Linked DNA regions of Homo sapiens: region 1 is linked to region 2. The links come from fine-mapping of genetic effects on gene expression. A gene starts in region 2. The other region holds a variant in brackets. All regions are shown on one strand. Distances are from middle to middle.

Region 1 (16,968 bases), 310 kb after region 2:
CCTGGGCGTACCTGGAGGGAGTGTTTGACACTGTCCCACAGTTTCTGAATCTCTGTCCATGTTTCTTCTGTATTTTTCTCTTCACTTTTTACATCAGATAATTTCTATTTACCAATCATGAAGTTCACTTCAAATATTCTTTTGAAACCATTTAGTGAGTTTCTCATGTCAGCTACTAGAATTTCCATTTGCTTCTTTTTTCTTTTTCCATAATTTATACTTTTACAGAGATACCCTGTTTAAAGAGTTTGTGAATTTTCATGTCAGTTATTAGAATTTCCACTTGCTTCTTTTTTATAATTTGTCTTTCTTTATGGAGATGTCAAATTTATACAGTTATTATTATCATATTTTCCATTAATTATGTAAACATAAATTTATTTTGTCTTTTATCATATAGCAGCTGAAAGTCTGCCTGCCCAAAGCAATATGGGGGACCACTTGGAGTCAGTTGCTAATGACTGCTTTTGTTTTTTTTTTAATTTTTCCTCAGCATGGGACACACTTTCTTGTTTTTTCACATCTTATAATTTTGTTGTTGTTGAAAATTGGAGCTTTTACATAATATATTGTAGCAATTCTGGATTCTGAAAGTTTTTGGTCTGAGAGTTTTCCGTTTTTTTTTTTTTTTGTTTATTATTAATTACTTGCCTGGACTTACCTATAGATCCGACTCCTTGACAATGTGTGACCAATGATGGCTTCCTATGGGTTGCCTGAATAACTTAAGGATCAGCAATGATTAAGAAGAGACTGTGCTCAAATGCCTAGAGACATGTAGAGTGTAACGCTTCCAACCTCTGTACATGGGTCTGTGGGTGGGAAGGGCAGCACATTCAAAGCTCAGGCAGTTCTCAGGCTTTTGCCCCAGTTTTTACATCCTCCTGGACCCTCTAGGGTCTCCCATGTGCATGCATAGTTTTCTAGTCTTTCAAGGATGTGTATAGAGCTTATCTAACCCTTCTATGACTCTCTAATTTTTAAGGTATTCCCCTTAAATTTCAGGCTGGTTTGACACTCATTGCAACCAAGAGTAACAACCTTAGGCTAGCAGAGTTACAAGTTTTCCCCCACTTTTTTCCTAGTTAGTTTTCTAATTTTACCGAAAACACCATCAGCCATGAGTTTTCACCCTCTACTCCAAATTTAGTGAGCTGCCTCTGGCAGCGAAATTGCTGGTTTCCATGGCCAACCCTACCCTGGTAAAACTGCTGCAACTGAGCTAGGGGTAGAGGGAATGGGAGCAGACCCTGGCAAGCAGCCTCAGACTCCCACTCGGTTTTTTGGTTTGTTTGTTTTGTTTTTTTCCAGACAGAGTCTTGCTCTGTTGCCCAGGCTGGAGTGCAGTGTCACGATCTCAGCTCACTGCAACCTCCACCTCCCAGGTTCAAGTGATTATCCTGCCTCAGCCTCCTGAGTAGCTGGGATTACAGGCACCCACCACCAGGTCTGGCTAATTTGTGTATTTTTAGTAGAGACGGGGTTTCACCATGTTGGTCAGGCTGATCTCGAACTCTTGACCTCAAGCAATCCACCGCCTCGGCCTCCTAAAGTGCTGGGATTACAGGTGTGAGCCATTGCATCCAACCCTCCCACCACTTTTAGCAGAAGTTCCAGCACATCTTCATTTAAAAATATCTTTCCATTTGTTTTTTGCTTTGGTCACCCTCCAGAGGCCTGAAATGTTTGTTTCTGACAATTTTGTTCAGTTGTAAACTTGGTTTTGGGGGCAAAACATTTGCCATTCTCTTTGCCATAGCAAGAAGTCTCACCTGTTTTCAATTACAACATAGGCAAATTTACTAAATTTCCCTTGATGGCTTGTAACTTCGTGGTTTTCTAAAAGAAATCCTTCCCCCTCTACCTCAGGTGTTAAATATAGTCACCCATATTTTCTTCCAAATTGAAACTACTTTTAAACAAATTATTTAAGTTTTAATCCACTTGGAAGTGACTACTGCATACAGCATGACGTGGGTTCTAGTTTTATTTCTTCCTTACGGATAAGTCATTCTGTGTTTGTGTATAAAATTCTGGACCAAATTGGCATGGTCTCTATTTTGCTAAATTCTTTAGAAGTCTTACAAACCCACAGCCAATATCATACTGAATGGGCAAAAACTGGAAGCATTCCCTTTGAAAACTGGCACAAGACAGGGATGCCCTCTCTCACCACTCCTATTCAACACAGTGTTGGAAGTTCTGGCCAGGGCAATCAGGCAGGAGAAGGAAATAAAGGGTATTCAATTAGGAAAAGAGGAAGTCAAATTGTCCCTGTTTGCAGATGATATGATTGTATATCTAGAAAACCCCATTGTCTCAGCCCAAAATCTCCTTAAGCTGATAGGCAACTTCAGCAAAGTCTCAGGATACAAAATCAATGTACAAAAATCACAAGCATTCTTATACACCAATAACAGACAAACAGAGAGCCAAATCATGAGTGAACTCCCATTTACAATTGCTTCAAAGAAAATAAAATACCTAGGAATCCAACTTACAAGGGACGTGAAGGACCTCTTCAAGGAGAAATACAAACCACTGCTCAATGAAATAAAAGAGGATACAAACAAATGGAAGAACATTCCATGCTCATGGGTAGGAAGAATAAATATCGTGAAAATGGCCATACTGCCTTAGGTCATTTATAGATTTAATGCCATCCCCATCAAGCTACCAATGACTTTCGTCACGGAACTGGAAAAAACTACTTTAAATTTCACATGGAACCAAAAAAGAGCCCACATTGCCAAGTCAATCCTAAGCCAAAAGAACAAAGCTGGAGGCATCATGCTACCTGACTTCAAACTATACTACAAGGCTACAGTAACCAAAACAGCATGATACTGGTACCAAAACAGAGATATAGACCAATGGAACAGAACAGAGGCCTCAGAAATAATGCCACATATCTACAACCATCTGATCTTTGACAAACCTGACAACAACAAGAAATGGGGAAATGATTCCCTATTTCATAAATGGTGCTGGGAAAACTGGCTAGCCATATGTAGAAAGCTGAAACTGGATCCCTTCCTTACACCTTATACAAAAATTAATTCAAAATGGATTAAAGACTTAAATGTTAGACCTAAAACCATAAAAACCCTAGAAGAAAACCTAGGCATTAGCATTCAGGACATAGGCATGGGCAAGGACTTCATGTCTAAAGCACCAAAAGCAATGGCAACAAAAGCCAAAATTGACAAATGGGATCTAATTAAACTAAAGAGCTTATGCACAGCAAAAGAAACTACCATCAGAGTGAACAGGCAACCTACAGAATAGGAGAAAATTTTTGCAATCTACTCATCTGACAAAGGGCTAATATCCAGAATCTACAATGAACTCAAACAAATTTACAAGAAAAAAACAAACAACCCTATCAAAAAGTGGGCAAAGGATACGAACAGATACTTCTCAAAAGAAGACATTTATGCAGCCAACAGACATATGAAAAAATTCTCATCATCACTGGCCATCAGAGAAATGCAAATCAAAACCACAATGAGATACCATCTCACCCCAGTTAGAATGGCGATCATTGAAAAGTCAGGAAACAAAAAGTGCTGGAGAGGATGTGGAGAAATAGGAACACTTTTACACTGTTGGTGGGACTGTAAACTAGTTCAACCATTGTGGAAGTCAGTGTGGCGATTCCTCAGGGATCTAGAACTAGAAATACCATGGGGCTGACCCAGCAATCCCATTACTGGGTATATACCCAAAGGATTATAAATCATGCTGCTATAAAGACACATGCACACGTATGTTTATTGCGGCACTATTCCCAATAGCAAAGACTTGGAACCAACCCAAATGTCCAACAATGATAGACTGGATTAAGAAAATGTGGCACATATACACTATGGAATACTATGCAGCCATAAAAAATGATGGGTTCATGTCCTTTGTAGGGACATGGATGAAGCTGGAAACCATCATTCTCAGCAAACTATTGCAAGGACAGAAAACCAAACACCGCATGTTCTCACTCATAGGTGGGAATTGAACAATGAGAACACATAGACACAGAAACGGGAACATCACACACTGGGGCCTGTTGTGGGGTGGGAGCAGGGGGGAGGGATAGCATTAGGAGATATACCTAATGTTAAATGACGAGTTAATGGGTGCAGCACACCAACATGGCACATGTATACATATGTCACTAACCTGCACGTTGTGCACATGTACCCTAAAATTTAAAGTATAATTAAAAAAAAGAAGTCTTTATTTTTGGTAAAGTACATTTTTTACTTTATTCTCTTCACTATATGCTCTTGTCTATAAATTTCAGAAGGAGCTTATCAAATCTGTAATAAATTCTGTTTGGGCTTTTTAACAAAATTGCATTAAATCTCAGATTAATCTATATTTTCATAATTAATATATTTAAAGTATTTTTAAATTTTTATTTTATCTTTTAATTGACAATAATTGCACATGTTCATGGGGTACATAATGATGTTTTAATACATAATAATGTACAGTTGTTAGATCAGGGTAATTAACATACGTATCATCTCAAACCTTTATCATTTCTTTGTGCTAGGAACATCACTATCCTCTTTCTAGCTATTTGAAGCTTTATAGTGTACTATTGATAAGTCTAGTCATCCTACAGTGGTATAAAACACTAGAACGTATTCCTCTTACATAACTGTATTTTTGTATCATTTAATAAATCTCTCCCTGTCTCCCTCTCCTTCCCAGCCTCTAGTATGCTCTGTTCTACTTTTTGCTTCTATGAAATCTACTTTTTTTAACTGCCACATCTGAGTGAGAACATGCGAAGTTTAATTTTTTTGTTCCTGGTTTTTTTTTACCCAACATAATGTCCTCCCATTCCATCCATGTTGCCTCAAATGTCAGGATTTTATTTTTAATGGCTGAATAGTATTCCATAGTGTATATACATCTCATTTTCTTTATCAATTCATCTGTTGTTGGACACCTAGGTTGATTCCATATCTTGACTATTGTGAATAATGAGGCAATAAACTTGGGGGTGCAGATGCCTCTCAGATATAACGATTTCCCTCCTTCAGATAAATTCTCAGTAGTGGGATTGCTGGATCATGTGGTAGTTCTATTTGTAGTTTTTTGAAGGACTTCCATACTGTTTTCTGTGGTAGGGGCTGTATGAGTTTAGGCTCCCACCAGTAGTGTATAGGGGTCCCCTTTCTCTGTATTCTCACCAGCATTTGTTATTTTTTGTGTTTTTGATAATAGCCATTTTGGGGTAACTATTGTAAGTGGGATTACCCTCTTGATTTCTTTTTCATGAAAGAAATTGTTATTTGGGTATGGAAATGATACTGATTTTTGTACGTTAATGTTGTGTCCTGCAACTTTACTGAATTCGTTTATGAGTCCTTAGAGTTTTTCGGTAGTCTTTAGGCTTTTCAATATGTAAGATTATGTTATCTGCAAACAGGGACATTTTGACTTCTCCTTTTTCATTTATTTATTTATCTTGACTAATTGCTCTGGCTTTAACTTTTATATCAGTGTTATAAAATCCTATCTATACAGCTAATTTAGATTGATAGCTTATCAGTATCTAGTTTGTATAAGAAAAGGACATTAATGAAATTCATCAAACTTTGATAACAATACTGTCTCTGTGTGGGATTTTGCATGATGCATTTTTTAACATTTATTTTTGTGCTTTTAAGTTTATTTTAGTTTTATTTTTACAATGGGTACATGTCAGAGTTATTTTTTTAAGATATTTGTTAATTTTTAAAATGCATTCAAAGGAAAGCAGCTTAGGAGGTAGACCAAATCAGTTTTGGTATCTTCTATAATGTGGACAAACTACACACATGTGGTCATGTCTCTTCCAATGCGGCAATTTTCCCAACCAATAAAGTAGGTAGTTTGGTGGCTCTGGTGAGTCATAAATTTTCTAATGAAAAATAATTGGATTCAAATACTGATTCTCCCACTTACTCTATTTTCTTTTACTCTTTTAATCTTCAGTTTCTTAATAACATAGGACTAATAATCTCTAACCCCATTTATTGTTTATTGCCACATTACTCACAATAGTCAAGATATGTATTTTTGTCAATTTTAATGAAATAAAATATGTCAGCTTTATTCTACTTAATTTAAAACCTCAATTCCACAGCCTGTGGAAGTCAAATCCCTCCCCACAATTTCTGCCAATGCCATAAATACAAACTGTTATGCTGCTACATTCAGTTCCCATTATGCTATCTCTGTTTTGTCGCTACATCAATCAATCCAGAAACAAAATTGCATTTACTTATGAGTTTTCAAGCAATTGAGCCATAATTAATTTTATGAAGATTTAGGAGTCTCAGAGTGCACTGTCTTCTGTCATTTTTGTTTATTTCCTAGGCTCTAAACCCTGTTTACCTCCAAACCAGTAGGATTGGCCCCAGAGCTCAACAGTATTTTGGTGCCTGCAAAAAAAAAAAAAAAGCTGAAAACAAAAAAACAAATAAAATGGAAAACAAACAAACAAAAACCCTCTATTGCCTGAATTTACCCTAATGGGAAGGAGGTTGACATTACAAAATTGGGGATATGTGTGTGTGTGTGAGAGATTGGAGAGAGGTTGACATGACAAAATTGTGTGTGTGTGTGATTGGAAGGAGGTTGACATTATAAAATTTTTGTTTGTTTTGTTTGTGTGTGTGTGTTTGTGTGTGTGAAATCTAGCACAGTGAGTATTTAGACACTAGCTTAGTAAGTGTTCCCTTTCTTTCTCATTGGGTCATCACCTTGTAGCAGAAGTGATTTCAAGAGCCCACCCCACAGAGATACCTCTTAGATTAGTTTCAAAGGCCGTGTCCTGGCCCTCTTTCTCTTCTCATACATCTCATTTTTATCTTGCTGGGGGCAGCTAGTGGAAATAACTTAGTTTTGCAGAAGCATAAACACATTCCCTGGTCATGCTCTGTTTCCTTTCAGCCATCTTCCTCGGTCCCAGCTCACACTCACAGAAACTGGAGAGTAAAGTGAAAACAGAATTCAGGGTTTACAAAACCTAACTACATTTTTGGAGACAGTGTTTTGTGGTCTTTGCCTTGCCAGACCATCTGTTAGCCATTAGCCTCCATTCAAATGAAGTCGTCATGTTTTCTTCCTAATGAAGCACTGTGGGCCGAACAAAGCTTTGCGGGTTTCGTCATTCTAAATAGGCTTGCTCACCACAGAGGACATCCCTCAGCGGGTGTCAATGTTAACAGTCCCCAGGTTCACTTAGAATCCCCTTCTGTGGCTTCACAGAGACCCAGGCCCTGGATGCATCGCAGATCCTCTTCTTTGACTACATGTAATGACTGAGCTCTACAATGGTCCGACTGACAACCAAGAGCTACCAACTCTTTCTGGAAAAAATAAAATTAGAAAACTATCCCTGCTCCTGGCTTCAAGTTACAAAACAACTACTTTCTATAAGGCTATTTAATGAGTGTGTACTGGGTCCCAACTGCTGTAAAGCATTGTTTATAATATTTATAGCAGACTAATAAGATTGTATTATTAGAGCCCTTTACAGCTGAGGAAACAGAATCTCTGAAATTTTGAAAAATGTGCTGAAAAGTGCATGGTTAATAAGTGACAGAGCTAAGATTCCACACCACCAAAGCTTGCTCTCTGACCACTTCCCATGTTCCCTGCTGTGGACACGTTGTAAACAAGTAAGCACTTTGCCTGCCCTTTCTAATGGAAGGGATATGCTGGACCCAAACTCACAGAGCAAATCAGTGGGCTTGTTTGGACTCAAGCCCACAGCCTTTTGATGAATGCTGAACTGAAGCCTTAAGTAGGAGATGGTTATTTTCTGCATTTGTTTAGCAGGTTTGGAAAGCAACTGGATTTGGTTTCAAACCTCAGCATTTACGAGCTGTTTGATTTTGGATAAGTCACTTTGCCTGAGTGTCAGAATTCTCACTTGTAAAATGAGAATAAAAATGAGAACTCTAGGTACTTACCTGATCGTTCTCAGGATCCAGCTTCTCCCCCATTAAGATGACAGGCACTCCCTGACTGCAAGGAAGCCAGCTATGTTTGAGATCAAATGAAATAACATGGGTCAAAAGTCTTGGTAAAACAGCCGGGTGTAGTGGCTCACACCTGTAATCCTAGCACTTTGGGAGGCCAAGGTGGGTGGATCACTTGAGGTCAGGAGTTCGAAACCAGCCTGGCCAACATGGTGAAACCCTGTCTCTACTAAAAACACAAAAAAGTTAGCCAGGCATGGTGGCCGGGCATCCCAGCTACTCGGGAGGCTGAGGCAGGAGAATCGCTTGAGCCTGGGAGGCGGAGGTTGCAGTGAGCAGAGATCACACCACTGCACTCCAGCCTGGGCAACAGAGTGAGACTCTGTCTAAAAATAATTAAATAAAATAAAAGTATTGGCAAAATGCTGGGAATGGTTTTGTGGTTTTATGTGATGAACCATAGGAATTGCTGTCTGACACTTAGCCATAAGAAACCATAATTTTTGTATAATTGCCTATGTCCAGTTGAATCTGGGAGATCCCTTAGTCTTGGTCATTTTGTTGGTAAGATCACTCTATCCTCCCTGGCATTGTTTGGGGATGGACCTCTACTTTCTGGTCAACCATTCATTCCTCTGCCATAGAGATGCTCATGTCTGGTTCTCCGGTGTAGATCCCCTTCACTGGTCACCTGCCAGGCCAGCCTCAGTGGCTGCTCTCTTAACAACACTGCAGGGCTCAGTGTCCAGACATCTAAGTTCCTGGCCCTGATATTTTGAACTGGCAGTCCCTTTGTCCTTCATCTTTTGGAGTCCAACTCCCTCCCATGGTTTGCCACATCTATCTTTTATCCTTGAAGCACAAAATCTTTCATTTTTTCCACTTTTGAGACCATTCAGACACATTCTTTTGGGTAAGCAGCCACTGATCCAAATGCTTACACAGATCGAACAGAAAATGTAACGGACTGAAACCGCAGGGTGGGAGCACATGGAGCTTGCCTGCAGAACCAGCGAGAAGTTGGATGTTTGGGGAGGCATCCAGCCTTGGAAGCAGCTCGTCTATTTCTTGGGGGAATGTGGCCCCATGTTCCCACATCTTCCAAGTGCAAAAACTGCTAACTTGGATTGGGGAAAAGGAGTCCAGGACCTGAATTCAAAGCCTCACTGAACATCCCATGGGAAGAAGAGGAAAATTAACTTTCACTCTTTCATTACTTAAGACCCTGCATTCAAAAGGAAAAAAAATTCAACCCAAACAATAAAAAGATATTTAAAAACATCAATTGCATATGGCAATTCATTTTCTTACAAAGATTGTTTGGGGTAGAAAGAAAATTATTTTCCTGAGCTTTCACTAGTTCTTATACCCAGTAACTGTGTGAGAGGGGAGCTCTGGGGCCCAGTCACTGTTACTGCCTATCACTTCTGCCAGGAAAGAGAGATCCAGAGGAGGCGGGCGTGCAGGTACTGGCAGGCTTCCCT[C/T]CATGAGAGCCCTGGGGTGAACACTCTCTCTGTGTGATGTTCAAGGGCTACCTGCATATGCAGGCAGAGGTGTCTTCACCAGAAGTACCTGTCTCTGCTGCACATCTAGATTCCCAGCATGGAACATTCTAGTATATGGATAAACTACTGTAGGTGTTCTTTTTTTTGTTTTCATCTACCTTGATGATTCTAATGAGCAAGTGTTGCAGAATTATTATTTTATGATAAGGCTGTCTGATCCAATGTCTCTCTCGTACATGCCCTGCCTCAGGCTTAAAATTGACACTTCTTCTTTCTGCAGGTATACAGGAAAGGGAATAGAGTTAGGGGCCAGTAGAGTTGAGTTTTGTCCTGGTTCTGTCACTAACCGGTTGTGTGATTTAGAGAGATGGCCTGAGTTCTCTGGGCCACGGTTTCCTCCCCTATAAAATAGCGACATTCATCCCTACTCTGTTTCCTTACAGCTCAGGGCTCCTGGGAGAATACAGTGGGATGCTCGGTATAAAAAAGGAGAGGACTGAGTCAAAGAGACTCCCATCCAGACAGCAGGAAGCTGTTGACAAACTTTGTCTGCCCTGCACTGTCCTGTAGGTGGAATGGTTGCTCCCTCCTCGGATTCCTGTCTCCACCTGAACAATAAAGGAGTTACCTAGATGAACCCTGCGTAACTCCTTCCAGCTCGTACATTTCATGACCCCAAGATTCCCAGCCCAATGTCCAGGCTGCCTAGGAAAGGCTGGAGTAGGCAGGTCTGGGGGAATAGATCAGGGGAATAGAGGTGGCTGTGATGCAGAGTGGGGGGTGAGGTAACGGGAGGCACCCCAAGTGCCTTCATGAATGGGGTGCTTCACATATACTTACTCATTTCATCACCAGACAACACAAGGAGGTCAACAGTAACATTATTACTCTACAGAGGGGGAAACAGACTCAGGAACATGCTGCTGCTGAGGGGTGCTGAGGGAATTGAACCCAGGTTAGTCTGACAGTAAAGCCGCCAGTGCTCTTCACCTGGGGGCAATCTTGCCCCCAAGGAAACATGTGTTCATGTCTGGAGACCTTTTTGGTTGTCACAATGGGGAATTTGGGTGCTGCTAGAAAGTAGTGGGTAAAGACCATGGATGATGCTAACTATCCTGCAATGCACAGGCAAGACCTCCTGCAACAAATAATTATCTTGCCTAGATGCCAATAGTGCCAAGGCTGCAAAACCCTGAAGGAAGTCCAGAGAAAGGTTCTAGATAGCTGGGCTGCCCTTAACTGTGCCCAGCACCTGTCTCCCCATCTCCCACCCCCATTCTGAGCTAGATTTGCATCAGTTAGCTACAGAAAAGGCACATTGTTTCCCATTGATAACAGAAGATGTAACTTGACTTGAGAAAAGCCAACAAAGTTGTACATTTGTATGAAATTAAAGGCAGGAGAAGTCATACATGAGCTCAGGTTGGTGGCTTAGAAGAGACTCTTTACAGAGCCAGCCCCAGGGGAGGAGGCAGGAGGAAGTATGGTAGGAGCCGGGTTACCTGCCTACCACTTCCACAGGGATGGTTTTGCTGTGTGCAAACTTCTCCTGAAGTCCTGTTCCTGTTCCTCTCTTTCCACCATTTTTCTGAAGACAGCTCTTTGCACAAACCAGGAACATGTGCAGTTGCCCAGTATGAGCCCCAGGGAGACCCCTTTCTGTTCTATTCTGATGCATTTGCTTTCCTGGGGTAAGACCTGTTTCCCATTCCTCCATTGAGCCTTTAAAGGATTCCTCTCATTGGACAAGGATTTACCAACTTACCAGCTCAGGGCTTTTCTAACTTCCTTTGTGACTTATTTGACAAACTGGTTATTTTGAGAGTGTGCTGTTTAATCCTACATGTTATAAAATTTCCCAAATTTCCTTCTCTTGTTGATTTCTAATTTTATTTCACTACAGTCTGAGAGAATGCTTTGCATGATCTCAATTTTTTTAACTTATCGAGGCTGATTTTATGGCTCCACATGCAGGAGAATGGTCCATGAGAGCTTGAGAAGAAAGTGTATTCTGCTCTCATCAGGTAGAGGGTTTTATACATGTCTGCAGGACCTAGTTGTTTTATAGTTGTTCAAGTCTTCTGTACCCTTGTTTATCATCACTAGTTGTTCTATTCATTATTCAAAGTGGGATATTAAAGTTTCAAATTATTATGGTTGAATTTTTTATTTTTCCATAAATTCTGCCGAGTTTTGCTTCATGTATTTTGTAGATCTTTTGTTGGGTGTGTATATATTTATATTATATGTATCTTCCTGAGGGATTGAACTTTTGTCAGTATCCCTGCCATGCTGTATCTCTAGTAACTTTTTAATTTTAAGGTCTATCCTCTCTGATATTATTATAACCACTCTGGCTCTTTCATGTTTGCTATTTGCATTCTACATACTCTTCTATCCTTTTACTTTAACTTGTTTGTATTATTGAATCTAAGTGCCTCTCTGTAGACAGCATATACTTGTGTCTTGGTTTAATTTTTTTAATCCAGTGTCAAAATCTCTTCCTTTTTGTTGGATTGTTTAATCCATTCATATTTAATATTGTATTAGTGATATGGTTGGATTTACCTCTGCCATTTAGCTTTTCATTTTCTATATGTCACATGAATTGCTTCTTGACCTTTTGACTACCATCAAGTGTAGCATATGCCACATGATTTTTAAAGACCCCTGTTTTTCATTTACCACCTTCTTTTTGTAGTATCTATTATAACTAATTCCAATAATGAGATTTTATTATATCTTTCAGTTATTTTCTTAATAGTTGCTCTAGGGCCTACAATATACATCTTAACTTATCAGAGTCTGCTTCAAATATGTATTAGCTTAATTCCAGTAATATATAAAAGTTGTATTCATATGTAGCCACATCCCCCTCCGCTACTATTTTTGGTTATGATTACTGCACATCTAACATCTATACAGGTAACAAACACAAAAATACACTGCCATAATTGTTACTTTATGTAATCTTATGTCTTTTAAATAAGCTGAAAGAAAACAAGGAGATAAAGTATACATTTAGAAAGTTTGTTTTATTAAATTTTAATTGCATTTTTGGCTCTCTTAAATTATTTCTGTGGATTTGAGTTACCATCTAGTATCGTTTCCTTTCTCCATACAGTTTTGCTCCCACTGTCTTCTTTGGGCTGTTACCATCAATATATTATAGGAAGAACTATATAAATTTATACATATTATTTGATGCAATTACTTTTAAAATCAGTTTTTAAAAAGGAAATATATCCTTATATTGTCTTTATATTTACCTTTATCAGCATTCATTTTTTAAAATGTGAAATTTATTTACTGTCTGGTGTCACTTATATTCAGTCTGAAGAATTACGCTTAAGAAAAGCCTGCTAGCAATGAATTATCTCACTTTTGGTTTATTGTAGAATGTCTATTTGGACATCATTTTTGAAAGATAGCTTTTGGTTTTGCTGGGTATAAGACAGAGGGAATTTTTGTTGTTTATGTTGTTTTTCCTTTAGACACTTTGAATATATCACCCCACTGTTTTCTGCTCTTTGTTATTTCTGATAAGAAGTCAGCTGTTAATCTTACTGGGGTACCTTTGTGCATGATGAGTCATTTTTCTCTTGATGCCTTTGAGGTTTTCTCTTCATATATGGCTTTCAGATTTCAACTATGATATGTCTGGGCAAATATATCTGCGTGTATCCAACTTTTTGTTTGTTGAACTTCTTAGATGTGCTGATTAATGTTTTCCACCAAACTTGAAAAGTTTTCAGCCATTATGTTTTTAATTTCTATAATTCTATTTCTCCTTTCCTTATGGTAATTTCATTACACATATATTGCTGTGCCTAATGGTGTCAGATTTATTTGAGACTCTGTTTTTCTTTATCCTTTTTCCTTTGTGTTCTTCAGATTGCATAATCTTTATTGCTCTATCTTCAAATTCACTTATTCCTGATTGTACCAGTTTAAAATGTACTGATGAGTTCCTCTCGTAAATTTCTCATTTCAATTATTTTATTTTTCAATTTCAGAAAGCCCATTTGATTCTTTTTTCATAACTTCTATTTCTTTGTTGATATTCTCTGTGTGATGAGATATCGTCACCATAATTTTCTTTATTTTTTTCTAAACAATTTATTTTGGTGCTTTGAATATATTATAATAGCTAGTTTACGTCTTTGTATACTAAGCCCAACACTTGTGTTCCCTCAAAACAATTTTTACTTTATTTTATTTAGTTCCCTCTACTGACTATTTTTTTTTTTTTTACTATGAGTCACACATTCCTGTTTCTTTGCATATCTTGTAAATTTTTTGTTTCCAACTGGACATTTTAGACAATACATTGTAGAAATTCCAACTGATTACATTCCTGTCACACCCACACCCAGGCTTGTTCCCTCTCCCACTAGTCATTTGTTGATTTTTAGTGATTTGTCTAAATTAAACCTGTGAAGTTTATTCTTCCTCTAGCCTTACATTATGCAGCCTCTGTTGTCTATCCTCATAAATTTTTCCCTAGTTTTTTCATTTAGCCTAGTGGTCACCCCTGGGTCCACATTAAGCTGCTTATTGGTCAAAGGTTGTGCTCAAGCCCCCATTAGTCATTAAATTTTTACCCATTGCCGTGGATGTATATTTAGCTTGGAAATTGCTTTCACGGTTCAGGAAAGTTACAATTTTTTCCCAAGGTCAAGTAGGAACTAATAGTTTAAAATATTCCTCCTCAATTAATCCTGAGAGGACATGGCCTTGGAATGCACAGAGTCTTCCAGACTTCAAAAGGTAAATGTGATTTTCTGTTTAAGGTTGGCTTTATAGGAGTCTCCTCTGGAACAGAAGAGCTTTTTCTTAAGTCAGTTTTTGGTCAGAGTATGTGCTTACGTGTCATGTGCCAGGGAAGCATCCGCCCCTTTTTGATGAATTTGTGTGTGACTTGGGTACTGTTTCTGTCCCATTCCCTACTCTAATTTTTTCCAACTGAATGCAGACTAATCTACAGGAATAGCCTTGCCAACACCTAGATTTGACCTCGATCCCAGGAGGATCTTTCTACACTCTTTCTTTTCCGGGTTCTCTCTGTTAGACTCTTGGCTGTTCTGCTTTTTCACTTGTTACAAGTCTCATGGAACTACCAGTCCCCTCTTAGTGGCTCTCCACAAAGATCTCCATTGTTTTTGACAACACCCTTAGGCATAAAATTCTCTGCACTCTTTTCCAAACAAAATCAGTCCTCTCAGGAACAACTGTGTAGCTATCCATGCTTGAGGCTTGCCTCTTCTGCTCTATGGAATCCCTGTGTCACCGGTGGGACATACGGGCAAGAACAATAGTCCATTTTTCCCAAAGGAATATCCTGCTCTGCGAGTGGTCACTGGTCAGAGATGGTAGCCCATGGTCTTCTAGGATTGCCCCTACTGCTGTGGAATCTTCATCCATTGAAAGGTCATGGACAAAAGTAGTCCCAACATTTTGACTTGCCATACCTAGGGTAGAGCTTCTTTTATATGAATGGGAACTGGGTGAAAGAAGTGAATGCTAGTCCTTTTAGCCACATCCACCCAAAGTAGACCTCCTGCAAGAAGAGGGGTATGAGGAAAGCTGGTATTCTGCCTCTCTCTGCATGAAGTCAAAGCCATAGACTGGAAACTGGAAGAAGAGGGATCCTATGCCTTCTTGGCTAAACACATCTGGAGTAAAGTCCCTAGGGTAGAGCTTTTTTCACAAGAAGCTGAGTGCGGGCTGGACATGGGAGCAGTTCATGGCTCAAATGTCAGTCTCTTGCTATTTTTATCAAGATGTATTAGATTTTCTCAAGTAAATGTTTTTCCATTTGCTGCATGCCATTGAGACAATTTTTAGAGATGAAATTGTTTTTTGTTTTGATTTGTTTTGTTTTTTGAGATAGAGTTTTGCTCTTGTCACCCAGGCTGGAGAGCAATGGTGCAATCTTTCCTCACTGCAACCTCTGTCTCCCAGGTTCAAGCGATTCTCCTGCCTCAGCCTCCCAAGTAGCTGCAATTACAGGCGCCTACCACCATGCCCATATAATTTTTTTATTTTTAGTAGAGATGGGGTTTCACCACATTAATTATTTTGTTTTTATAATTTTCACCAGTTAAATTTCAATGAGGAGAAGGTTGGCAGAGCTCCTCTTACCACACACCATTCATTCATATACAGTGCACTATGTACAGAGAAACACTTAAGCCAAACTGAAAAATGTAAAGAGGCAGCTTCAGACTAAACTTAATTTAATAGTTTCCTACTTTTGATCAACCTCCCAATTTTAAGAGGTTGACCAAAACTTTAGGCATTGAAATCACTCTGTCTCCATTGTAAATGTACTTATTTGGTCCTAAATCCTACTAGGAAATTGAAGAGGAGTATGTTTTGTAAGGTGGGAACGAGGAATTCAGGCTTTTTTCTTTTCTTCTTTTTTTGGTTACAGTAGAGGGGGCCTCCTTGTGCTGGAATCTCCTGTGTACACGAAAAATACAAAACCTGGTCTGTTTTAGGACCTATCTGCTTTCTTAAAGTTTCCATTTGATTATGTGGCATTTAGCATGAAACTTTGTTTTGACTTTCTCTGGTCTGTTGGGGCTTAGTGTACAAGCTCAGTTCAAAACAATGGCATCCCATAATTTTGTTTAAACGTTCCCCTCTTTTGATCAGGTTCTTACTTAGGTGAGAATGAGACCAAAACTTAGGGCTTCAGCACCACTCTCAGTTACCATAATTTGCTACCCACCATTCTTGATACACACATTTTAAGGCAAAACTTTTGTATTTTATTCTACATTATAATTTTCACATTTGGGCATTGTAGCCTGACTTTCAGATTCACGTATCTCCTACTGCTCAGCAAACTAAACTGATGGGACCAACAGAAGTTTATTTCCATGGGAGCAAAAAAGGATCCTTGAACTATAATAGAACCCATGTCGGTTATGAAGGTGCAACATGTCTTGCATAAGTTGGGATGACTTAATGTTTTCTGTAAGGGGAAAGAATCCTGGAAGAGAACTTTTCCAAAGTTGACCCAGGGACAGGTCAGGAGCTCCTTTTTGAACACAGGGGAGAAGCGATGCTACATAAAACACAGGTCTGTTGCCAGAGTGTCACAGCCCGGTGCCTGCCATACCCCTGCACGCACAGAGAAATGCACCTCTGTAGTCCAGGCCTCCACAGCTTGGTGATTCTTGGCATAGTCTTAACATCCCTGGGAGGAAATTATTATACCAGATAGAGCAGGAGGACTATGGTGACCCAAGGAGAAGTGGGAGCATCATGTCAAAGTCTCAGGGAACGCTAAGCTCCAAAGAGCCAGAGTTTTCTCCTCGAGGCAGGAGCTTTTTGGTACTCAACTAGTGGCAGCTGAGAAATGAGGTACCGGAGAAGCAGCGGTCTCACCCAGAGGGAGGGAACTTGGTCATGAGCTTATCAGAAACATCTCCAAGATACTCCCAGCAATGTTGAGGAGGGAAAATGTAGAA
Region 2 (8,000 bases):
CTTGTCACCTCTACACCTTTAATAAGACTCGGGTTAGATGTTACTATGTTCGTTAGATGCAACTATGTTCGTTAGATGATGTTCAATTTCAAGACTTACACAATCTGAAGGGCACAGTTTGGAGTGTTGAGAATTTTGAGATGCTTGACGTTGGCTCTGGCAACATGGCTTTCGAAGAATCGGCATGGGCATCTGTAGCTCAGGCTGACGGGCTTCCCTAGAAGAGGTAAGGACAACAAGGCACTTTACTACCCTGCCAGATTTTGGTAATGTGTGTCTGGGCTGCAGCAGTTGGTGCAGCGATTAAGGATCAAGAGACGGCATCACTGGGGTAAGTTCCAGGTTACTGGTGTATGTTGGGAAAGGCCATCTCCTCAGGCAACACAGTGAGTGCTGGCTGAGCTCAGGCTCAGCTTCTACAGGGCAAGGAGCCCAACAGGCCTGGGGAGAGCCGGAGCCTAGATGAGGCGGGAGTTTAAATTAGAAGCCACCTGCTCAGTGTCTCAAGATAAAGGTAGTAATTATAGTAGATAACGGTTTCAGTCCAAGGTACTGAAATTTCCAGTTACTCTTTGTAAAAAAAATTCCTCAAGGGACAACTGAGAAAGATCTCCCTACTCAGGGAAAAGAAAGGGGGACAAGAGGCTCCAGGCTCCCTGGCCTCTCTCCTCTGGCACAGGCCTCTAGCCAGGAAGCACAGTAGTACTCAGGAATGCTGCCCTCCCCCACCCCAGAGACCCCTCCTCACATTCACCTAAAGCTCTGGAAGGCACAAAAGAATCCTGGCTGGCTTCCTACCTGTGAGTCCCCTGAGAGCAGGCCAAGGACCCACCTTCTGCCCAGCACTTTCCCCAAGGCTTAGAGATTAGTGGAGCTGGAGTTAAATGTGGTTTTCATTGCCTAGGCAGGGATGCTGTAGCCTCAGGAATTGTATTAAGATCTTTGCAAAATCACCAATTTACAAAATGCCATAATTGACACTCATTAGTGTAAATTAGCAAGGGGCTCCTGCAGAACCCACTGCTCACCCTTTAAATATAGGATTGCAAGCCCTGGAGGGCTGGGATTTGTGTGTGCTTTTTGTTTTTCTTTTTTCCTTGAAGATTTTATCCAAGCCCCACTTAATACCCCAAATTATTTGAACTTGTGGATCCTTTCATCAGAGATTAAATATATGTCTAAGAATATTTGGTCCAGAGATTTTTTTTCTTTTTTCTTTTTTTTTAAGTTTGCCTGTTTACAAAGTTCTGAGAGACCTCTGTGGTTCTGAAATTCTGCACCTTTGGGAAAGAATGCTGGGGAAGTAGGAGGAAATCTTGAGTAAGGGGCTCATTTTATTTTATTTTTTCTACAGACTGCAATCAATTGAGGGATGATGTGGACTAGGAATTGCATTGTGTATTCAGCCACCAAGTTGCAGGAAAAGTGGACCACTTGTCCCCCCACTTCCTTGTCCCCAGGACCAAATGCAACTCCCTGAAAACCAGGAAAAAGCCAAGCATCAGGGTGCTGGTGACTCATGGCACTGGAGAGACCTAAGGCAGCCTTCACAGTTACACCTGATCTAACTCCAGAAAGGCACCTCTGGGGCCAGCTTCCAGCAGCTGCACTGGGACCCTGCAGGGGAAGTCAGCACTGCACTGTAACCAGATCACCTGGGAAAGCCACCCCCAGGGCCGGGGCCTGCAGCCTGGGTAACTGAGGAGCTAAACGCTCCTGAGTGTTGTGCCTCCAGGTTTCCCTGGATTTCTTTTGGGCCCTTCCAAGCTGAGGCAGGGGGTGGGTTGGGGGTGGAGCAGGAGAATAGGAGGCCGGTAGTGAGGCACAAGCCCCCTCCCGGCAACAGTGAGCTTGAAGATATGCAGCCAAGGGCAAGTGCTGCAGCCGCCCCCGCTGGGATGGGTGGGGCTGTGACTCTCCAGCGCCCAGAGGAGAGAAGCTCCTCTGGCCCCCCAACCAAGCAGTGGTGATGAGGCCAGAAATCAGAGCCTATTCAGAGCTCAACACACAGGCTCTCTCTCCTCTCCCCCTCCACCCCCTGGGATTATCCATTTCCTTCAAAAGCAATTCTTGCTTCTACTCCCAGGACCTAAGGCCCGCCTGTCAAGCAGCGAATTTCAACAGGTCTTTTTAAAGTGACAGAGCCCCCAGGTGTGCTTACCAAAAGAACATGGTCTCGTGTGTACCTCATGTGCTCCTTCCTCCAGCTTTTTGTCAGTAAGACTAACTTTCCCAACCGTTCTGGATGTAAATCCGTGTACCGGCAAGAGTCCTGACTGGCTCTGATGGTACCCCGGATTTGGGACCGGGTGAGCTTGGCTCCAGGAGTTTTCAGAAAGCCCTCCAGTCTAATGCAGAGACAGGAGCCCAGCTGGCCCCTCCAAGCAGGCTTGGGAAGGGGGCCCACCCTGAGTTTAAGCCCGGGAAACCCAAGGGCCCAGCTGCCTGACGGAAGTCAGCCAATGGGGGAGGGGCAGGACCCCTGGCCAAGCTCTCTCTGTAGTGCAGCTTGAGGACTAAGTGTGGGGATAGGGGGCACATAGGCACTGTGAGGTGAGGGGAAAACAAAACAAAACAAAACATTCTGGCGATGTGTGTAAGGAGCAGATCTGCCTGGAGCCCAGGCTCCTGCCCTGGTTACTTGGCTGCCAATGGGGCAACTCTGAGGGCCATGTCACCCTTCCCAGGCCAGGAGGAGTCTGGGATGAACCCCACGTCTCTGTGCTTCCCCCAGGTCAGTTGCACCCATAACTCAAAGACCGAGGTTCCTCATTCCAATCCTCTCTCCAGCCCTCCGGGGAGGGGGCAGCACCATTTCCCAGAGCGGCGCACTGTGACACCTCCGCGCTCATCCCACCAATCAGTCAATAACTGCCCAAACCAGAGACCTTACAGGAACAGAAGAATATCCAGCAATAAAAACTAGAAACATGCCCCATGACTTGCGGGGGGGGGGGGGGGTCAGTGTGCAGACACAGCCTCAGGGACTTTTCATCAACGACGAACATTCCCAATTGCCTTCAGTCTGTGTCCTTAACACTTAGGCAGTCCGCCACGACCCCAGGCTGCCCAGCTTCTCCAGCCCGACTCAGCTGCGCTGGTCCTGCTCACACCAGCGCACAGTCCAAGCCAGCTAGGACGCCGGGGCCACGTCTGCACCAACCCAGCCAAGGGCTCGAGGCGCGCTGGGCCTGCACAGCCCGCGGCTGCAAGAGCACTCAGAGTGTCCTTCAACTCTTTGCAGGAAACTTCACAGCCAAGGAAGCTCAGCGGCCTGAGCCACAGGGTTTTGTTTTGTGTGTTCAGAGGCAACAGTTTATTTTGGTTTGCATCGGTGTCCTGTGACAGCGCAGCGAGTTTCTCTTCAGCGAAAGAAAAGAAAAAAGCCCTCTCCCAGTGAAACGGGACACCACGGTTCCCAGTGGCCCAGGGCCTTGGAGATTGAACTTTGCTGCAGCTCTCATTCTGGGGCAAAGCGCTTGGCCAGCTGGTGACAAAAGAGCCTGTCTGCAGGTGTGTTTGGGGAGCTGGGGAGGGGGCGTGTGAGGCTCGGAGGGTCCCTGGGCCTCTCTCAGGTGAACCCGAGAAGAGACAGGAAGACAGCGGCTGGACGCGCGCCCAGGTCCGCGTCGCTGCGGACCGCGGAGCTGTGCAGAAGCGCGGCCTGGCGGGTGGCACAAGCCCGACAGCTGCGCCGCGCAGCCCGCCCGCGCCTGGCCAAGAGCCCCGCGAGGGTGTGGGGAGAGGATCGGCTTCGCAGGGAGCGGAGGCTGCGCGGCTGCATCGGACCTCACAGCCTCAAGTCGCGGCATGAGGCGAACTTTGCAAAGCGCGCTCTCGCCATGCACCGCCCGACCTCCAGCACTGTGCGCAGCAGGACCTCGGAGCCCATTCGCCTGTGGAAACCGAGCCCGCAGCGGGAAGGCAGTGGGTGGAGGGTGGGCAGGCAGGGGTCTGGGGTCCGCGGCTCCCCACCCTCGCGCCTTCCCGCGCCAGTCCCGAACGCTCTCTTGGGGCGTTCCTGCCCAGTTGTCCCGGCTGACCTCGCTCTGCAGCCAGCTTGAGGTCAGGCGGTCGCTCTCTGCAGGTCACAAACCCTCGGCGCAAAAGTAGGGCTTTGAACGCGACACCGCACCAGAGCGCCCAGCTAAGCGAGCTGCCTCCACCCCCACTGTGTCGGGCGGCGCAAACTGCGGGCGCAGGCAGAGGAGCCGCGGCTCTGCGCCGGGCGGGAGCCGAAGCCCAGAGCCTCGCCAGGGCCTCCCCGCCGAGCGCACTTACCGTCGCTGAGGCAGAGCGCGGTCAGCACGAGGACCAGCACGACCACGACCTTGGCGTTCATGGCGCGGGCGGGCGGGCGGGCGGGCGGACGAGCGCGGGTCGGGGGCCGGACGCCGAGCGGGCAATGCGGCTGACGGAGAGTGAAAGTGCGGCGGTGGGAGGCGCGCGCCGGGCGCTTTAGAGGGGAGAGCCAGGCGGGGCGGGGCGGGGCGCGCGGTGAGGGGCGGGCCCGGAGCCGAGTGCTGGCCGTGGCCGGGGTCTCTGACGCGCGACTCCCTCGGCGGCACCCCCCACCCATCCCCTTCGCCCCTCCTCCGCTCCCTCTGTGCTCCCGAGGCGCAGTGCGCTCCGGCCTTTGACCTTCTCAGGCTCCGCTGGGCCCCGCACCGCTGGCCCGGTCTGCAGTGAGGTCCGCAGCCTGAGCGACGCCGGCTGGAGGGCCGCTTATTGTCCCTGTGACAGGGCCCCACTGGAGAGACTGAGGACCTTAGGCGTAAAGTGGGGCGCGCGTGGAAAGCTGCGGGACGGGGCCTTTCGATGGCGGGAACTGAATGAGAACCAATGAAAAGCAAACAAGTTAGTCCCGGGCGGAGGGCCTGCTGGCGGTGGCGGCCCAAGGCAGCCGAGGGGGTCCTGCTTTCTGTGCGTGGGGGCTCAAGCTCGCCACCTGCCCGGCTTGCGGCGCAGCCGCCGGCAGAGCTCGATCTGCGGGAATGAGACCCGTCTTTGCAGTCAGCGTGGCTCGGACTCCAAGCCCACGGCGCCACCAGCCGAGCCTCAGTTTCCTCGCCTGTACAAACAAAGCAGAAGGCGCCGGCGGCTCTCAGTAAAAGCGAATGTAGCCTTTGTACTTCCGACCTCTCAATGGTGAAATGAGCTAATCACAGGCCCACCCCGCGGAGTGGGACGGGAGATTCAATGAGACCCGCCCCACGCCGCGAAATTCTCTGCATCGTGTCTGACAAGCAGACAGTACTCAATAAATGGTAGCTGTAAGTAAGTCCTTTAAACCTAAGTACTTACTGCCTTACCCAAGAAAAGCTCCGTGCGACCCAAAGAGCTGAGAACTCCCCCACCCCGACCTCCGACTCCTAGGACAGTACTACTGGCGTCTGCCTTCTGGGTCCAGAAAACTCTTCCCACGGAGCCGTCCCTCGGCGGTGCTTAGCCCTCCGGATACCCCCGAGACATCCCAGATGGCCCCAGTCCGGTGGCGAAGGGAGGGTGCAGGTCGGCACCCAGGAGACGTGGGGGTGAGGAGAGCGCCCCTTTGGGCCTCGCTTTGTGACCGCAGGCTGCCCCAGCCACCTCTCTGTGTCCTTCCCAGCACAGCGTCCAGCGAAGTGGGGTCAGTCGCCGCGTCCATCCAGGGGCCTGCCCTGGGGACACGTCCCTGTCCCTGGGGAGTCCTGGCCGTCGGGGAGTGGGCGGTCAGCGGCTGCATTAGGCGGGAGCGGTCAACAGGAGGCTGCGAGGGCTCCGGAACTCCGCTGGTGGGAGTAGGTGTCTTCTGTGCATTTTTTTTCCAAAACCACTTTGGCCGTTAGATGGCTGTGGGCCGGCACTCCATCCATCCATCCATCCATCCATCCACCCACCCACCCACCCACCCACCCACCCTGGGCACTGGGCTTGGAGCCGGGAACCCCACTGACTTGGCCCTGCTCTTAAAGAACTGAAGGCAGTGAGGTCCAGTGAAGAAGGCAGCCGTCGGGCGTCCCCAGGCCTTTGCTGGGCTGGGCCGGGGAGCCTGGCCGCTCACCGGCCGCAGCGCTGGGGCTCCGGCGCCCTCTGGTGGCGGCGCCTCCCTCCCCGCTCCCAGAGCTCTGGCCAGCTCCATTCCTGCGCAGCTGATGAAACCCGGGAGGGCGAAGGGGTCCGCGGGAAATCTACACCCGGGTGGAGGGGCGCCCTGGAGCTCGGAGATCCGACCCTGCGGGAGCCGCGCGCAGCCTCGCTTGCCCTTAAATCTGGCCAAAGCAAACGCCATCGCCTCTCGCTTCTTCTTCTTCTTTTTTTCTTTGCCACAAAATCAGGTGGGCAGCTGGACCTAGGATCTGTCCCAGAAGCCTGAAAGGCCCGCGTGGGCTGAGTCGAGGGCGAACCAGGGATTCAGGCCTGGCCGCTGCCCCTCCCGCAGGCGCCCTGAGGCCCCAGAACAGAAGCTACTGTGGCACCCATGGGGCCATCCCTTCCGCTAGTCGTTCGTTAAATACTTACTGAGCACCCACTATGTGCTAGACCTGGGCTACATGTTTGAAGTAGTTTAGAAAAGGCACTAAACGTTTAGAAGCACATGGCGCTAAGCATAAGTAATTACGCATAAAATACTTAGAAGGCCATTAAATGCTAGGGGAAGATGGAGCAGAGGAAAGTGGGGTGGGAGTTAGGATTTTAAATAGGGTGGCCAAGGATCCATATTTTAGGTACAAGCCTCACAATTTTACAATTGGCGATTGAAATTTAAAACCCTGGCCGGGCACGGTGGCTCATGCCTGTAATCCCAGCACTTTGGAAGGCCGAGGCGGGCGGATCACGAGGTCAGGAGTTCGAGACCATCCTGGCTAACACGGTGAAACCCCGTCTCTACTAAAAATACAAAAAAATTAGCCGGCCGTGGTGGCGGGCGCCTGTAGTCCCAGCTACTCGGGAGGCTGAGGCAGGAAAATGGCGTGAACCCGGGAGGCGGAGCTTGCAGTGAGCCGAGATGGCGCCACTGCACTCCAGCCTGGGTGACAAAGCGAGACTCCGTCTCAAAAATAAATAAATAAACAAATATGTAAATAAATAAATAAATATGTAAATATGTAAATAAAATAAAATAAAACCCTGTACACTCTGGGGGCCTCCGCACCGCCTGCACAGGCAGGCGGCCATCAGACCAGGCCATTTTGACATGTCTCCAGCTCACTCGGCCACAGGGGTACCTCTCAAATTCGGGTCAGCGAAGTTCCCCACCCCTTTCCCTGTGTCCTTTGCTTATGCTTATGCTCAAAAGGCTCCACCTTTCTTTCTCTGCCTGGGGACTCTTACTCCCCATAGAGCCCCACCTTCTCCTGAAGTCTTCAGACTCTGTGCCGCTCTACCAGGTAATGCAGGGCACAGCGGCTCCTCAGGGATGCCTTGTTAAGCACAGTTCAAGGTGGGAGGCAGGGGTCTGGCTGCTGAGTTAAAGGCAGGGCATCTCCTGAGCTGGCATGTGTGCTATGGTCTCTAGACCCCTAGGCAGCATCTGCCTACCCCCCTCTGCCTGGCCTGGGCCGTTCACTCCTCCAGGGCCCAACGGCTGGGCCTGCAAGAGGGTTCCCAGTAGGGATTGAAGGTTTACACTAAATCCATGTTGTACAGTGTGTAATTGACAAGGTGACTTCAGGTGGTACTCTGAAATCTATAAAATATAGATTTATGTATTTATTTTTTTAAAGTAATAAGAAAAAATATAACTAGCACAGTAAAGGCAGATATTTCAGATATTGCTCAGGTTTTTTTTTTAATATATGGTTCAAGTTTTAAAAAGTAAGTCAATTGAAGCTAACATAGCAAGTGCTAGTCTAGGTGGCTGGAGACATAGCAAAAATTTTGACAGCAATACAAATAGATCTGAAATTTGAAAACCTTTTCTACATGAAGAATATTTTTTGTATTACTTGACACCCTCCCACCGCAATCCCCCTCTTGAAATAAGTATTTGGCTCCAAAGTGCTGAAACATAAAATCAC

Direction of the effects. Positions count from the first base shown, and alleles are read on the strand shown. Sizes are in standard deviations (SD) of each study's normalised expression.
For the expression in sigmoid colon of the gene that starts at base 4,434 in region 2, allele C in region 1 goes with a lower level than allele T (moderate effect, 0.52 SD a copy in GTEx).

What was found.
Region 1: its variant is fine-mapped to the expression of CXCL12 in sigmoid colon (GTEx, PIP 0.99).

The regions. Positions count from the first base shown.
Region 1 is chr10:44,689,633-44,706,600 of GRCh38, forward strand. No RefSeq gene overlaps it. Among named protein-coding and RNA genes, the nearest start is that of TMEM72, 210 kb to the right of the region's middle. The variant C/T (reference allele first, on the strand shown) is at 9,467.
Region 2 is chr10:44,380,664-44,388,663 of GRCh38, forward strand. CXCL12 (C-X-C motif chemokine ligand 12) reads right to left here and starts at 4,434. Exons shown (of 3, transcript NM_199168.4): 1 at 4,282-4,434; 2 at 100-217. The coding sequence starts at 4,342. RefSeq lists enhancers at 1,990-2,683, 2,684-3,377, 3,378-4,069 and a silencer at 5,963-6,172.